Linked DNA regions of Homo sapiens. The protein of the gene in region 2 purifies or fractionates together with the protein of the main gene of each other region. This does not show direct contact. Each region holds a gene or a part of one and is shown on either strand. Other genes may lie near its edges. The genes, in order: TBCA and EIF4EBP2.

Region 1 (4,341 bases), on a different chromosome or scaffold from region 2:
TTAAACCTCAGTTTCTCATATGTAAAATGAGAATCCAAACAGTATTATTAACATTTACTACCCACTTGCTATTTGCCACATACTGTATTAAACAGCATAGCAGGCAGTTCTTGCAACAACTGCTTGAGTTGGGTGCTTGCTCTATTTTACAAATAAGGTAAAAGAGGCACAGCACAATGTAATATATTCCACAACATAGAATAAAGGGCAGAATCAAGATCTGAACCCAAGCAGTCTCACTTCACAAATGGCTGTGCATTTAACTCCTACTCACATGGTCTCCTTATTGCCTTGGCAATAAAGCTTCCCGGGAAGTGGGATGCTGTGCTAAAACTCAGAAGCATTATCTTAAAAAGTGAATTTATTCTCCCTTTTGCCTGGTCCTTCCTCTGGTGGAAATATCAATAAACAAAGGAAAGGTGGGCGAACAGGAAGAAGCCAGTTGGTTTCTTTAGTAGACATTGCTACAACAAAATAACTTGCTTCTTCAGAAGGCTGTTTATCTTTTCTCTTGTAATACTTCATCAAAAAGTTTGCTCTTCTTGGGTCTGAACAATAAAGTTCTAATGAACACTGAAGGGTCTACCAGCACTCAGGAATGCAAACTAAAAACAAAATTCTAAGCTCCAAAACCGTCTGAATGGACCCCTCCTCTCAACTAAGGGCATTCTAAAGTAATTCAGGCCATGATGGGAAGAGGGGGTCAGACATGTCTCATTACACATTCCTCCCTTTGGAACTCAGGAACAATTGAGCAGCATTAACATTAAAACAGATCTTAAGGCTTTTTGTAACAATAAGACACCAAATTCCAGCTTTACTCTAGTATGGCATCACAGGACAGATAGCGGGATCTGAAAGAAATAAAAGCATTTTACTCTAAAATATATTTCTTTACATATTTTGAATTGGCCCTGCAAAGATGTCTCTTAAGGGGAAAATCTATATTCTGTAGAGAACCCTCTTCCCTGTCCAGGTCTTTTTCCTGATCCACTAGAAAATTAACTAGGAGTCTGGGACCTTTTTAAGTCTGATAAGAAACATTTACAATCTATTCTCTCTGAAGCCTGCTACCTGGAGGCTTCATCTGCCTAATAAGAACCTTGATCTCCACAACCCCTTTATTTTAACCCAGACACACTCCCTTGTATTGATTCCAGGTCTTAAGATAAACTCTTTCAACGAACTGCCAATTGGAAAACCTCCTATAACTTGGAACTGTCCCCAGCCCGCTTTGGGTTGTCCTGCCTTTCCAGATCAAACCAATGTACATCGTACATGTATTGATTGATGTCTTCTGTCTCCCTAAAATGTATAAAACCAAGCTGTAGCCTGACCACCTCGGGCACATGTCATCAGGACTTCCTGAGGCTGTCACAGGCATATCCTTAACCTTGGCAAAATAAACTTCTAAACTGATTGAGACCTGTCTCAGGTACTTTCTTGGTTTACAGGAATTTAAGCAAATTACAGGACTGCACTACCCATGAGTTTGTGAAAGGAAAAATAAATCTCAGGACCCCAAAATCACTAAGCCAAAAAGAAAAGTCAAGCTGGGAATTGCATCGAGCAAACCTGCCTCTCATTTTATTCCTGAATAAGATAGCTACAAAGATTAAAAAAAAAAAAAAAAAAGCTACATACCTCCCTGACAATTTGCCCCCAAGGAAATTCCTTGTGGGCCTCAAGACCTTCACTCTAAAACAGTTCTGTTGTATTTCACCCTGGCAATGTAAATTGATAGCTTATCTTCACAGGTATGGGACAAAGAACAGAACTCAAAGTCACCCCTCTACCCACCTGAGACAAATGCGTAACTGACTGCTTCCTCTGCCCTACTGTGTATGTAAAATCGCAGATTCATTTAGCCGACTAAGGCATAAGTGACTATTCTTCTATCCCTCTCTCACATGTAAATTGTGTATTAAGTGAAAAGCTGATCAAAGACTCAAAAGAATGCAACCATTTGTCTCTTATCTATGACCTGGATGCCCCCCAACCTTCTAGTTGTCCTGCCTTTCTGGAGGGAACCAAGGTACACCTTACCCATTGACTAATATCTGAGGTCTCCCTAAAACGTATTACACCAAGCTGTGCCCCAACCGCCTTGGGCACATGTCATCAGGACCTCCTGAGGCTGTGTCATGGGCACGTCCTTGGCAAAATAAACATTCCAAATTAAGACCTGTCTCAGATACTTCTGGTTCACAAGTTATTTAAACAGCATCTCACAGCCTCTGGGGCGAGCTTCGGGGAATCTGACTGGAGAAAGTGAGGCCACATAAGTTTGCTGAGTGTGCTAGAAGTTCAGGCCCAGTTCTCAAAGCCTGCCAGTCACGCCAGCCATGTTAGGTCACACGGCTCCACTACGGTCTTTTTTGACGAGGCCCAGATCCTCCGCATCCCCCTAAACTTCAGAGCCTGCTTTCAAGCCCATTTGAGAGCACAGCTGGGATCCCGCTTCCCCGGGCCAAGTTCAGCAAGGAGAGGCCGGCGCGCGCACACAGGAGGCACGGGATCAGGGCCCGGCCCGCCCTCGCAGGCCGCGGCCCACCACCTTCCCACCGCGGGCGCCGAGAAACCGGGCCACCGCCGACTCTTCCGGCAAATCAGAGCGGCCAGTGAGCGGAGAGGGACGGGAAGCGGCGTGCGAGGCTGGCGGGCTCGGGCGTCAGCGCGCCCCGCTGGGTCCCTGCCAGTCCCAGCCAACTGCGGAGCCCCGGGTGCGGCCTGGAGTTCGGAGCCCGCCTCGGGCCTCCTCGGGCCTGCGCTCCGCTCAGCCTCGCGGGCCGCCATGAGGTGACGAAGAGGAGGTGCAGGGCGCCGCTCCCGGCTCCTTACCGCTTCACCACGCCGGTCTTGATCTTGATCTGTCTCACGCGAGGATCGGCCATGGTCCCTCGAGCGCCGCGAGAAGGAGGGGCGGAGAGCCGGGGTAACCGTGGAGGGCGACGCGCAGAGGCTGCGGCTATTTAGGCGTGGTCGCCGGCGCGCATGCGCAGGCTGCGCGGCCCGTCGTCCCCGCCACGCCCCGCGGGGCGGGTTTACTAGAGGGCGGTACCCTGCTCCCGCCAGTCCCTTTACCCCTCGTGCGCCCCTTTACCCGTAGTGAAACGTGCCCTCCTCCTCTCTCTCGGACTGCCCCTCTTTTTACTTCAGGCGCAAGTTACACTATCCCGGTCTCCACAGCCTGGGCCTTTGGGGAAACTAACGTCTCTCTGGGACGTTGCTTTGCGGGATTATCTGCTTAATGGACGGAGTGACCTAAAAAATGTATTAAGGGTATTTTCGATGTCGTTATCTGGTGTCAGATGAGGCAGAGTGATGCATGTGTAGTGAAACAAACTGCCATCATGCACGCAGTCAAGAAAATCCTTGCCCTTTACCTCAAATCCCTGCAAGAAGGTTTGTAGATAACGTGCCTTTCAAAGGAAATGACTAACAGAACTTCTTCAGATGATCACTTATAGTGTATCCTAAATATTTAACTTACAAGAATGTGTGTCGCACACAAAACCTTGGGCTTCCTAATCAGACAAACCGGCTTACAATCGAGGTTCCACCCTTTAATAGCTAGACTATTAGCTAGACAACACTGATACGTATGCTGTTTAGCCTTGCAGCTGATCAGTCTGCAAAATGGAAATAATAATGTCCATTTTACAGATTAGGTATAAGGGTTAAAACACCTAGCTCATTGTCTGACGCATGGTAGATGCTGAACAACATTTGACTATTTTATATGTTCAAAAATATATTTGTTGCATAAAATGAGGCACATCTACAGTGAGCTCTAGCAGTCCCTTCCTAAGAGAATCTCCTGAGGAATACAGGGCAGAATCGCCCTTTTTAAAATTGCTTTTCTTTTTCTTTTTCTTTTTTTTTTTTTTGAGACAGATTCTCACTCTGTCGTGCAGTGGCTTGATCTCGGCTCACTGCAACCTCCGCCTCCTGGGTTCAAGTGATTCTCCTGCCTCAGCCCCTAGAGTAGCTGGAATTATAGGCGCGTTCCACTATGCCTGGCTAATTTTTTTTTTTTTTTTTTTTTGTATTTTTAGTAGAAACGGGGTTTCACCACGTTGGCCAGGCTGGCTAGAACTCCTGACCTCAGGTGAGGCCCACCTCACCCTCCAAAAGTGCTGGGATTACAGTCATGAGCCACCGAGCCCACCCCCTTTTTAAAATTTCTTGGTACCATCCTTCAAAGACACCCATATGACTGTCTTTTTCCTTCCCTAGCCTGACTTACTCATTCTCACTTTCATGACTGGTCCTGGAATCCCCTTCTATCCCGCCAGCCCAAGGCCGTTACTTTAAATCCAGGATCAAAACTGAGCAAAG
Region 2 (3,812 bases):
TAAAGAAAAAAAGAATGTGTTGGAGGAGGGGTAATTTAGGTAAACCTTAAACGCAGTTCTGGAAAATAGAGGAAATAAACCATACCGCTTTTCCTCACACCATATAAAAGAAACTCATATAAGAAACAAGGTCGGCCAGGCGCAGTGGCTCACACCTGTAATCTCAGCACTTTGGGAGGCTGAGGCGGGCGGATCACGAGGTCAGGAGATCGAGACCATCCTGGCTAACATGGTGAAACCCCGTCTCTACTAAAAAATACAAAAAATTAGCCGGGCGTGGTGGCAGGCGCCTGTAGCCCCAGCTACTTGGGAGGCTGAGGCAGGAGAATGGCGTGAACCCGGGAACCAGAGCTTGCAGTGAGCCGAGATCGTGCCACTGCACTCCAGCCTGGGCAACAGAGCAAGACTCCGTCTCAAAAAACAAAACAAAACAAAAGAAACAAGGTCTATTTGCCTGAGGGTGATGGAAATGGGGGCTATGAAATTGTTTTGTTTTCTGTGTGTGTTATCCTTAGTCCAATGAAGCCTAGGCCAGGAAGTCCTTAAGGCATGGTTCAAAGAGTCATTTTTGGGGTTTATCATCCTGATTCTGGATTCTTTTCTCCCACCAACTACATCAGATTTATGATTTAGAATTCAGGGTTTTCAGAGTATTTCAAGAAACCTTTGGGGGAGGAGGGAAACCTTAGAGACATATAACTGAACATTAGTTATTAACTGAAGAATTGGCCAGGCACAGTGGCTCACACCTGTAATCCTAGCACTTTGGGAGGCTGAGGCAGGTGGATCACCTGAGGTCAGGAGTTCAAGAACAGCCTAAGCAACATGGCGAAACCCCGTCTCTACTAAAAAATACAAAAATTTGCCAGGCGTGGTGGCAGGCGCCTGTAATCCCCGCTACTCGGGAGGCTGAGGCAGGAGAAACGCTTGAACCCAGGAGGCGGAGGTTGCAGTGTGCTGAGATTGTGCCACTGCACTCCAGCCTCAGTGACAGAATGAGACTGTGTCTCAAAAAAAACAAAAAACAAAAAACAAAACTGAAGAATCAATAGCTTCTCAACCTACAGCAAACAGACATTCAAATTCCAAGAGCCACGCTCTAGGTCTCCAACATCGCCATTCTCTTACCAACTGCATGTTTCCTGTCGTGATTGTTCAAGTTGTTCAAATTGTTTACTTCTACTTTGGAGTCTTCAATTAAGGTGCCAGGGCTAGTGACTCCTGGGATATTGGGCAGGTGGCAGGGTGGGGTCTGAGCCATGGGAGAATTGCGACGATCCAACAGAAACTTTCTGTCATAAATGATTCGAGTTCCTGGAAAACAGGGTTAAAAAGAGTTTGAAACAATTTAAGGGGTTATCAACATATAATACCACCCAGGAATTTAATTTAAATCCCATGTAATCCTAACTTTTAAGGATTTTACAATTCAAGTTGAAAGCATAATCTCTAACCTCTCTGCCTGTAAACAGGCTCTTCTGCCATCTGGAATGCCCTTTCTCTTCTGCCAGGGACACTCCTGTTGATCCTTCAAGACTCAGCTCCAACCATCACTTCCTTTATGAAGCCACCCCCACCCCTCACTTTTTTAAAAGGTTCTTCCTCTCCATCTTACACACATCATGTATTACAGGACTCCTGTTTATCCATCTGTCTCTCTTTATAGACTCTGAGTTTCTTATGTCAGGGCTATGTCTTATTTATATGTGACCTAGGCCCTAACATTAACATCTTTAAGAAAAAAAAAGTTTTAAATGAAAGAATAAACAAGTATGAGAAAAAATAAACAGCCCCTTTTAAAGGCTTTCCAAAGAAGGACTGAGACTAACATTCTTCTCACAGCTATAGTCAAAGCTGAAACTGGCAGCCCCTCTCTATTCTACAAAACAATCTGCTTACCAGTTAAGTGCTACCTGAATGTTTTAAAAACAATAGTTTTGAAGAGTACACTTTAACTGATAAACAGTTATGGAAACGTGCTGCTTACAAATGGTCAACAGGTACATTAAAAGGTGCTCGACATCACTAATCATCAAGGAAATGCAAATCAAAACGACAATGAGATATCACTTCACATCTCTTAGGATGGCTATTATCAAAAAGACAAGAGAGCCTGGGCATGGTGGCTCATGCCTGTAATTCCAACAGTTTGGGAGTCCAAGGCAGGAGGACTGCTTGAGCCCAGGAGTCTGAGTCTAGTCTGGGCCACATAGTGAGACCCTGTCTCTAAAAAAATTATTTTAAAAAGAGCCAAGTGAGGTGCTGTTGGTCTGAAGTCCCTACTACTCGGGGGTTGAGCCAGGAGAATAGCTTGAGTCCAGGAGTTCGAGGCTACAGTGAGCTATGACTGCACCACTGCACTCCAGCCTGGGCAACAGAGCAAGATCCTGCCTCAAAATGTAAATCAAATATAATTTTAGGACAAGGAAAGTAGAAACTTACCTTCAACCTCTTTGCTTTGAAAAACAAAAACTAGAGTAGCACTCAAAAAGGCATCTAGAAATTATGAGGAACGAGGCATTCTGGGTAGCACAAAACTTAGTTCAACTTTCAAAGGGTAAACAATTTCAATTATCTTGAATGAAAATACTTCTAATACAGATTTAAATCCCTTTATGGCCTTCAACAGAAAATGATTCAACCCTCTTGATGAATCACAGTATTATGAAAATTGTTTATTATACTATGTTGTGACCTAAGAAGTCTCTAAGCCCTATCAAGTTGGTGCTCTGTACAGCTGAACATCACTATACAGAGTTCGGATGGTCAAAGTTGTGCTGGTGCACCCCTCCCCCACAGTGCCCTTGTCCCCTTAGACTAAGAGCTACCTTTTTTCCAGGCTACTACTATGACTCAGTCAGCTTAGGCTGCCATAACAAAATACCACAGACTGCACAACTTAAACAACAGAAATTGTCTCATAGTTCTGGAGGCTAGAAGTCCAACACTAAGATGCCAGCATGGATGGTTTCTGGTGAGGGCTCTCTTCCTGGCTTGTAGGTAGCTGCCTTCTCTTTGTGTCCCTTACATGGGGGTAAGGGGGCCTCAACTCTGTGGTGTTCCATCTTATAAGGGCACAAATCCCATCATGAGGGTCCCACCTTTATGACCTCAACTCAGCCTAATTAACTCCCAAAGGCACCACCTCCTAATACTATCATGTTGGGAATTAAGGTTTCAACATAAGAATTTTGGGGAGACACAATTCAATCTGTATAGCACACCCTTAACACCCTTTCTAACTTGGTGTTTCTAGTCTGGTGGGTTTGGAAATCAGCAACTTGCTTATTAGCATGCTATGTAAAATAAGGGCAAATAGGCTGAAAGGGGGTCTGATGGCCTTCCAATGAACAAAGGGAAGGAGCTTTAACAATGGACTTTGCCTATCTGTTTGAGTTACCCCACTTTTGTTCATGATGAGATTTCAGAAGGGTGAGGTTTCACTGTCAGATGAGTCAACTTGCAAACTGGAACAAGATTATTCTTACTTCTGTAGTACATCAAGCTTGGAAATTGTGGAGATGAGGTGGTGAAAAAAGCACAGCACAGAAGCAAGCTTTCTAAATTATGTATCAGCAACAACGCATACATTAAAGAATTGCAATTAAACCAACTAGGATATAGGTAGTGGAGATTCTGCCTAAATGTGTGAGGTATAAGAGAAACTCTGAAGAACCTCTATGACCTTAAAGAGCTGATAAGATACGGTATTTTACAAGTTTATTGAAATAGCATTCATTTACAATTGATCCACTTACAGTGTATAATTCAATAGTTTTAGTTGATTCGCAGGACTGTACAATCATCACCAT

The links.
Region 1: the proteins of EIF4EBP2 (region 2) and TBCA fractionate together in Homo sapiens (co-fractionation; one large-scale study listed by BioGRID). This does not show direct contact.

Annotation. Positions count from the first base shown.
Region 1 is NC_000005.10:77,773,364-77,777,704, forward strand, and holds the start of TBCA (tubulin-specific chaperone A), read right to left. Parts: upstream 2,977-4,341; 5' UTR 2,895-2,976; coding exon 2,842-2,894; intron 1-2,841. UniProt on the Homo sapiens protein: Tubulin-folding protein; involved in the early step of the tubulin folding pathway.
Region 2 is NC_000010.11:70,417,416-70,421,227, reverse strand, and holds part of EIF4EBP2 (eukaryotic translation initiation factor 4E-binding protein 2), read right to left. Parts: intron 1,315-3,812; coding exon 1,129-1,314; intron 1-1,128.